2 linked regions of the Homo sapiens genome follow. The protein of the gene in region 1 purifies or fractionates together with the protein of each later gene. This does not show direct contact. Each region holds a gene or a part of one and is shown in the gene's direction. Other genes may lie near its edges. The genes, in order: ZNF253 and AKR1B1.

Evidence for each region.
Region 2: the proteins of ZNF253 (region 1) and AKR1B1 purify together in Homo sapiens (co-immunoprecipitation; one large-scale study listed by IntAct). This does not show direct contact.

The regions. Positions count from the first base shown.
Region 1 is NC_000019.10:19,864,732-19,868,991, forward strand, and holds the start of ZNF253 (zinc finger protein 253), read left to right. Parts: upstream 1-1,150; 5' UTR 1,151-1,265; coding exon 1,266-1,268; intron 1,269-1,704; exon of another isoform or gene 1,705-4,260. UniProt on the Homo sapiens protein: May function as a transcription factor. Seem to have a transcriptional repression activity.
Region 2 is NC_000007.14:134,452,386-134,456,195, reverse strand, and holds part of AKR1B1 (aldo-keto reductase family 1 member B1), read left to right. Parts: intron 1-3,810. UniProt on the Homo sapiens protein: Catalyzes the NADPH-dependent reduction of a wide variety of carbonyl-containing compounds to their corresponding alcohols.

The DNA.
Region 1 (4,260 bases):
CAGGCTTGAGTGCAGTGGTGCGATCTTGGCTCACCGCAACCTCTGCCTCCTGGGTTCAAGCCATTCTCCTGCCTCAGCCTCCTGAGTAGCTGGGACCACAGGTGCATGCCACCACGCCCGGGTAATTTTTTGTATTTTTAGTAGAGACAGAGTTTCACCGTGTTAGCCAGGATGGTCTCGATTTCCTGACCCAGTGATCTGCCCTCCTCAGCCTCCCAAAGTACTGGGATTACAGGCCTGAGCCACCGCACCTGGCTTTACAAGGTCTTATTAAAATTAGCTTTAGTATTGATAATACACTATTACCAAAGTAAAAGTTGACTTTCTCTTGAACAAACATTTCATGTATTATTAATATGACAGCAAAGTACTTCTGTTCACCTTTTGAATACATTCAAAAAGAGAGAGAATATGAGATAGAATTTTCCCATGCTCTGGGATGGGATGCTCAGCTCAGGGAGGAAGCCGTTTGAAAAGGCTCCAGCTAGGCTAGGCGCGGTGGCTCACGCTTGTAATCCCAGCACTTTGGGAGGCCGAGGCGGGCGGATCACCTGAGATCGGGAGCTCGAGACCAGCCTGACCAACACGGAGAAACCCTGTCTCTACTAAAAGTACAAAAAATTAGACGGGCGTGGTGAGGCATGCCTGTAATCCCAGCTACATGGGAGGCTGAGGTAGGAGAATCGCTTGAACCCGGGAGGTGCAGGTTGCGGTGAGCCAACATCGTGCCATTGCACTCTAGCCTGGGCAACAAGAGGGAAACTCCGTCTCGGTGGGGGGAAAAAAGAAAGAAAAGAAAGAAAGAAAGAAAGAAAGAAAAAGAAAGAAAGAAAGAAAGGAAAGAAAGAAAGAAAGAAAGAAAGAAAGAAAGAAAGAAAGAAAGAAAGAAAGAAAGAAAGAAAGAAAGAAAGAAAGAAAGAAAGAAAGAAAGAAAGAAAGAAAGAAAGAAAAGGCTGCAGCCTAGGCTGTCACTCTTTCTTCACTCAGCCCAGTATCTGATCACATCTGTCACTCAGCGGCTGGGGAGGCGGGGCCTTAGGCATTATCCAATGAGGGACGCTGGGCCGGAAACCGTCCAATCAGGCACGCAGCTGGAGCGAACCACATGGTTTCTGGGGGCCTTTGTTTCTCGCTGCAGCGGGAGCTCCAGGTTTATCCTCAGTGTTCTGTGTCCTGTGCTTATAGAGGCCCGTCCTCTGTGGCCGTGTGACCTGCAAGTATTGGGAGAGCCACAGCTAAACCCCGGGACCCCTGGAAGCCTAGAAATGGTGAGTGCCGGGTCCAACGTCCCGAGAGAGGGGAGAGGCTGTTTGGAACGGTGGGAAGTGGCTCTGGCGGGACTCTGCTTCCTCACAGTCAGCTCCACAATCTGCCGCCGGAGTTCTCCCTGCCCAGCTCGGCCTCAGTCCCCTTCAGCCATAAGATGGCGGCTGCGGTGACATCCGGGGCCCGGCACAGTGATTGTGCCCTGGCCTGGAGCCCTCTTTCAGCAGCTCTGCACCCGCAGCACCGCGTCTCTCCCAGATCATGCAAGGACCACGGGAGGGTCGTCAGGGGAGAATCCTGACTCGGTTCCCTGCGGGTTCATGAATGGGAAGAGCTTTGGTCCGTGAGGTTGTTAGAAACAAGCGCTTGGTGCCGCAAAACAACACAAAACAAAAAACTACCCAGCACTTAGAAAATTTCACAGGAAGGCATATTTACTTCTGAAGAAGAGTGCTGCTCGCGTCCGACCTGATCGCAAGAGCACACAGAAGAAAGGAAGGAAGGTTTTTTTTTTTTTTGAGGCGGAGTTTTGCTCTTGTGGCCCAGGCTAAAGTACAATGGCGCGATCTCGGCTCACTGCAACCTCCGTCTCCCGGGTTCAAGTGATTCTCCTGCCTCAGCCTCCCGAGTAGCTGGGGTTACAGGCATGCGTCACCACACCCGGCTGATTTTGTATTTTTAGTAGACATGCCGTTTCACCATGTTGGTCAGGCTGGTTTTGAACTCCCGAACTCAGTTGATCCGCCCGCCTCGGCCTCCCAGTTTGAAAGGGGTTTTTAACCCTAAACGCCGTTATTGCCTCTGTGTCCTTCCCCCATTGGCCGGGGTCTGACCTCACAATCTAGGCTGACCCGATTGGCTACTTTCCAAATAAGGAAGGGGTTCGGGTCGCAGATTGGAACAGGCGGTTTGGGTTGTTTACGGAGCGGGTGTCTAGGTACAAAGAGGTACAAAAAAGTTGGTCCTAAGAACAAGGAACAAGAAAGTTAGGCCCTTGAAGAGGAATCTATTATATCTGTCAGGGTTCACAGTTTCCCTTTTCTCCTATTAAAAATTTATGGGGCCGGGCGCGGTGGCTCACGCCTGTAATAACAACACTTCAGGAGGTCGAGGTGGATGGATCACTTGAGGTCAGGAGTTGAAGACCAGCCTGGCCAAAATGGGGAAACCCCATCTCTACTAAAAGTACAAAAATTAGCTGGGTGTGATGGCGAATGTCTGGTTTTCTGTTTCTGCATTAGTTTTCTGAAATAATGGTCTACAGCTTTATTGATGTTATTGCAAAGGACATGATCATTTATTTTTAAATGGCCAGAGAGTATTCCATGATATTTATGTACCATATTTTGTTTTTACTAAATCTTTTATTTTATTTTATTTTTGGAGACAGAGTGTCACTTATTGCCCAGGCTAGAGTGCTGTGGAGTGATGCAGCCTTATTTAGCCTCAACCTCCCTGGCTCAAGCAATTCTCTCCTACCTCATCCTTTCACGTAGCTTGATCTACACGCTGGTGTTACCACGCCTGGCCAATTTTTCTCTTTGTATTTTCTGTGGAGACAGGATTTTGCAATGTTGCCCAGGTTGGTCTTAAACTTCTAAGCTCAGGCAATCCACCTGCCTCAGCCTCCCAGAGTGCTGGGATTACAGGCATGAGCCACCGCATCTGACCATACCGTGTTTTCTTTATCCAGTCTACCACTGATAGGGCCTGTCCATGTCTTTGCTATTGTGAATAGTGCTGCAATGAACATACATATGAATGTATCTTTATAATACAATAATTTATATTTCTTTGGGTATATACCCAATTATGAGGTAGAGTATAAGCATTCCCTTTTCTCTGCAACCTTGCCAGCATCTGTTATTTTTTGACTTTTTAAAAATAGCCATTCTGACTGGTGTGATGTGGTATCTCATTGTGGTTTCTCTTAATTTCTCTAATGATTAGTGATGAGCTTTTTTTTTTTCATATGCTTGCTAGCCACATGTATATGTTCTTTTGAAAAGCATCTATTCATGTTTTTTTGGCCTATTTTTTAATGAGATTTTTTTTTTCTTGTAAACTTGTTTAAGTTCTTAATAAATTCTGGATATTAGACTTTTGTCAGAGGCAAAGTTTGCAAATTTTTTTTATTCTGTAGGTTGTCTGTTTACTCTGTTAATAGTTTCCTTTGCTGTGAAGAAGCTCTTTAGTTCAAATAGGTCCCATTGTCAATTTTTGCTTTTGTTGCAATTGCTTTTGGTAGCTTCATCATGAAGTGTTTGCCAGTTTCTGTGTCTAGAATGGTACTTCCTAGGTTATCTTGCAAGGTTTCTTACAATTTTAAGTTTTTCATTTAAGTCTTTAATTAATCTTGAGTTGATTTTGTATATTGTGTAATGAAGGGGTCCACTTTCAGTCTTCTACATAGTGCTAGCTAGTTATTCCAGCACCATTTATTAAATGGAGAATTCTTTCCACATTTCTCTTATCAGCTTTGCCAAAAATCTGATGATGGTAGGAGGGTGGCATTATTTCTGGGCTCTCTATTCTGTTGCATTGGTCTTGTGCACTCATGAACTTTTTTTTATAATATCTTTCTCTCTTCTGCTTTTTCCCCCATAAGCATTTTTTCAAGTGCATACAGTGTGTAAAATTCTGATGTCCAAGAGTTCAAAAACTCTTTAAAAAGTTCCAAAAAAGGGGATTGGGGGGCTAGGGGAGGGACAGCATTAGGAGAAATACCTAGTGTAAATAATGGTTTGATGGGTGCAGCAAACCTTCATGGCACGTGTATACCTATGTAACAAACCTGCACGTTATGCACATGTACCCCAGAACTTTAAAGTATAATAAATAAATAAAAAGCTTAAAAAATATTTTGATATTCTCTCTTTTCTTAAGGAATTTAGGTTATATGTAGATGCTTTTCTCTGCTTTTTTTGAAATACATGTAAATCATATGAACAGCTAAATAAACCCTTTGTCATTTTCTCGGGTCCAGATTATCTT
Region 2 (3,810 bases), on another chromosome or scaffold:
CCTTTCCCTTGTATGTGTGTATGTATTCTTTCACAGATGCTCGACAGAAGATGTGATCCTTTGCCTGTCTTTGTGACAGCTGGAGGAGGCCCTGCAGGCAGGTGCAGTTCCTTATTCTCCTGGGTCTTCCCATGCCGTAGCGGCTGTGTTGTACCTTTCAGACCCTCAGCAGGGCTCTGGTAGTCTCTACTCTTGAAGGTCCTCAAACTCCATTCTCTTCTCAGGTGAGGGTTTCAGGCAGATGGGGAGACCATCTCTGCCCCAGACCCATGTGGCTTGGACAGGGTTTCTTTCTGGCAGTCTTGCCTTCTACATTGGATAGTAAACAATTACACCTGTAATCCCAGCACTTTGGAAGGCCAAGGCGGGTGGATCACCTGAGGTCAGGAGTTCGAGACCAGCTGGCCAACATGGTGAAACCCCCTCTCTACTAAAAATACAAAAATTAGCCCGGCATGGTGGTGGGTGCCTGTAATCCCAGCTGCTTGGGAGGCTGAGGCAGGAGAATCACTTGAATCCAGAAGGTAGAGGTTGCCATGATCTGAGATTGTGCCACTGCACTCCAGCCTAGGCGACAAGAGCAAAAAAAAACTCGGTCTCAGAAACAACAACAACAACAAAAACCCATCACAGCATTGTAAAGCCAGGAAGCTTTTAAAACAGAGATGATGTCTGGTGCCCACCAGTGTCTTGTTACTGATAGTGTTTTTAATCTAGTTGAAAAATTGTTGGAGGTAAAAGTCATTGTAAGTCTCCTATGTATGCTCACAGAATACTCCTAGGGCTGAAGGTACAACTATGTTTCTCCATCTTTTGCCATGATCACTACCTCCCTCCCACCTAGGAGCCTTGTGAGACTTTTTTTTCCCCTAATTTGCCCCAAAATAAAATTGTAATATCAGAGATAATATTGTACTTCTGCTTATGGCCAGTAGCCTTCTAGAGGGTCACAAGCTGTTCTATAAGCTGAGGGGGGTTTTTTTGCCCCAGAGAACTAATTTTTGTCTCTTTGGGGACAATAGCACCCACTTTAAGAATGCATGAGGTAAAAGAAAATGTGCCAGGAAAGACTTGCTCCACCTTCCCCAAGTGGGGTAAGCTTGTGATGGCCCAAGATCCTTGGATGGGGTGAGGGTTGAGGCGCTGTGGGCATGGAGGTAACACAGGAGCCAGATTTACTGTTCACTTCCCTGGTGTCTCTAAAGCCCCCATCTCTTCCTCTTCAAGACCAAAGACATTTAAATAAGCCCTGCCCCTACAGGGTCAGTCCTGGTCCATGCACATCTCAACTAGTTGGAAACAGCAGTGTCTTAGAATTTGGGACAAATTGATTAAAACAGAACAGGAGGAAGTTAATTTCTGCTGCCAAACCTGATTCTGAGTGATCGTTTCCTGTTCCTTGCTCCAGGATTATCAGCACAGCATTCTCATGCTTCCTACTCAGGACCGTTTCTTTACCCAAAGTGAAGTTTCCTTTGCCCCCTCCCCTTATCCTTTGATTTCAGTAGTAACACCTGCTAACTAGAGAACATTTCAAAAATGAAGAGTTCCCTGTTCCCAGAGATCCCCGTGGTTAATATTGCAAAATATCCAATCTCTGAGATACTTTGGTTTTACCATAAACACTGTCCTGTGACCGTCTTCCTGTTTAGCACTGTGGCTTGCTTTTTGACTTGCAGAGGGAAGAGAGGGAGGGGTATCTTGAAGTAACTAGCAAGACCTGTAAGCAAAAGGGAAGAAGACTAGGTTTTAAAAGGAGTGTTGTATCTGTGTAGGAGGGAGACACTGATTTTAGTTATCAGTGTCTCAGAGTTGGTATTAGCCAGCCGGTGTTATCAAAGGAGGAACTAGGACCGCTGTCTTGAAGGAGGTGGTGGAGGACTCAAGGGCAGAGGCTTCTCACTGCCATCACTTGGTGCCATCAGCCCAGAGCATTTCAAGTCACTGCCCAACGTAGAGCTTTGCAGAGCCAGAAGTTCTGGGAGGAATGGGCATGCATGGTTTTGCCCATCAAGGGCACACAGATTAGTGGCAGGATCGGGTTAGAAACATGTAGGATTTGTATGATTGAGCTGTAATTGGAGTGTTTCATATACTGCATTTCTACAGCTCTCATCAGTAATGGCTGTGCCTGGATGCCACCCAGCATGTTTTCATAGTTTACCTTCTTTTTAGAAGTCAATCTGGACCCCTCCTTCTGTTTGCATTTTCTCTTTGTTGACATGGAATGGGGAGATGTTGTCATCCTGTGTTGGCATTCCCAAGTTTAGTGAATGGTTTCTCACCATAGCTTAAGTTGGCTGCTTCATTTTTCATAAGGCAAATTAGTTTCTCTCAGGGAAGGGCTGTACATTGAGATCATTAACATAGAATGTGGTTGTGGATCCTCGTACATTTTCATTGCAGAGGTGACTTTTTCCCTCCAGCACCTTTGATCAGCCTCCCAGCACACATGTCTCCAGCGAATGGCACATATCCAAGGAATGATCAGCAGCTTCTTCGTGACCTCTTGCAGTCATTGCTGTCTTTTACTTTTCTAGAAAAACCTCTCACAACTTTTTTTTCATGTCGTGCCAACGCAAGCTTGATTATCCTAGTCTGTGCTCTTTTGGTTCCAAAGAACTGAAAAACCACTTTAATCTTAAGCAGGAAAAAAAAAAGTGTGTTTGGGGTGGGGATTGATTGACTTCCCCAAACAACAGCCGCTGACATTAGGTGTTTGAGATTCAGGGTTGTAAATGTTGTCACCAGGATTTGGCCTCCCTCCACTTTCCTGCAGCAGCTCCAGGCTGACATTCTCCCAGCTCAGTGACCCCAGCAGAACCGGGGCTGGACTCAGGGGTTCCAATTCAAGTGCAAAGATTGAGTCTTATGGCCTGGATTGAGTCATGTTCCTGTCCCCGCACCAGTTGCATGGCAGGCAGTGCGTGGCTAGGCTGAGCCTGCGGAGTGTGCCCTCAGCAGCTCCTCAGAGAAAAATCAATCAAGGCGCCATCAAGCCTGGAGAAAGTTCAGTGTGTCCTGGGCAGTTTCCTGCCTGGGCCCCAGTTGTTCTTTCTGGGGTAGGGATGTCCTCTGCTCTCCCTGCTGTCATCAGTGGTGGTTGTGCCCGGACACCACTCAGGGCCTGTGGTAAGGCATTCTTTCTGGAAATTGAGATTCTCTGTTCCTTCAACCGTGCAGAGTGGGGAAGGCTGCAAGAGCAGCTTCTGAGGTCCTCCAGTCAAATAAGAGGTCGCCAGGTCCTCTGAGGGTCGTCCCCTCTTAACCCACACCTTCGATGAGCATCCCCACCCTGCCTCGCTGCTCCCTCTGAGGTGGAGAGTGAGCTCCATGCTAACAGGCTCTGGTAACGGGCTTGTTCAACTGGGCCCCTTTCTTCCCCAAAGCCTGTTGAAAATAGCTGATGTCAAAACACAGATGTCTGCAGCTGCTATGGCCCTGGGGGGTTTTTCTTTTCATTTGTTTCTACCCCAGCTCTCCAAAGGAATGTGCTCTGTTCATTCAACAGCCCGCTGCACATGTTTATTGCTCAGCTCTGTGATCATAGCAGGATAGTGAAAGTTGGGGGATACGTGTCCATGCAGCCTACCTGGGTGCCAGTGAAGCGCGATGCCATGTAGGCACTTCCTCCTCCTCTTCAGTAGCCAGGCTCCCCACAGCTGTTCTGGTTACTCAGATGGTCAGGTGGCTTGGCCATGGACACCCATTCAGTCATTTTGCCAGGTCAGCCACTAACCATTTGGTGATCTTCCATGATCCACATTCCCCCTCGTTTCCCTTTAACTTATTTCTCTCTGCTGATACCTC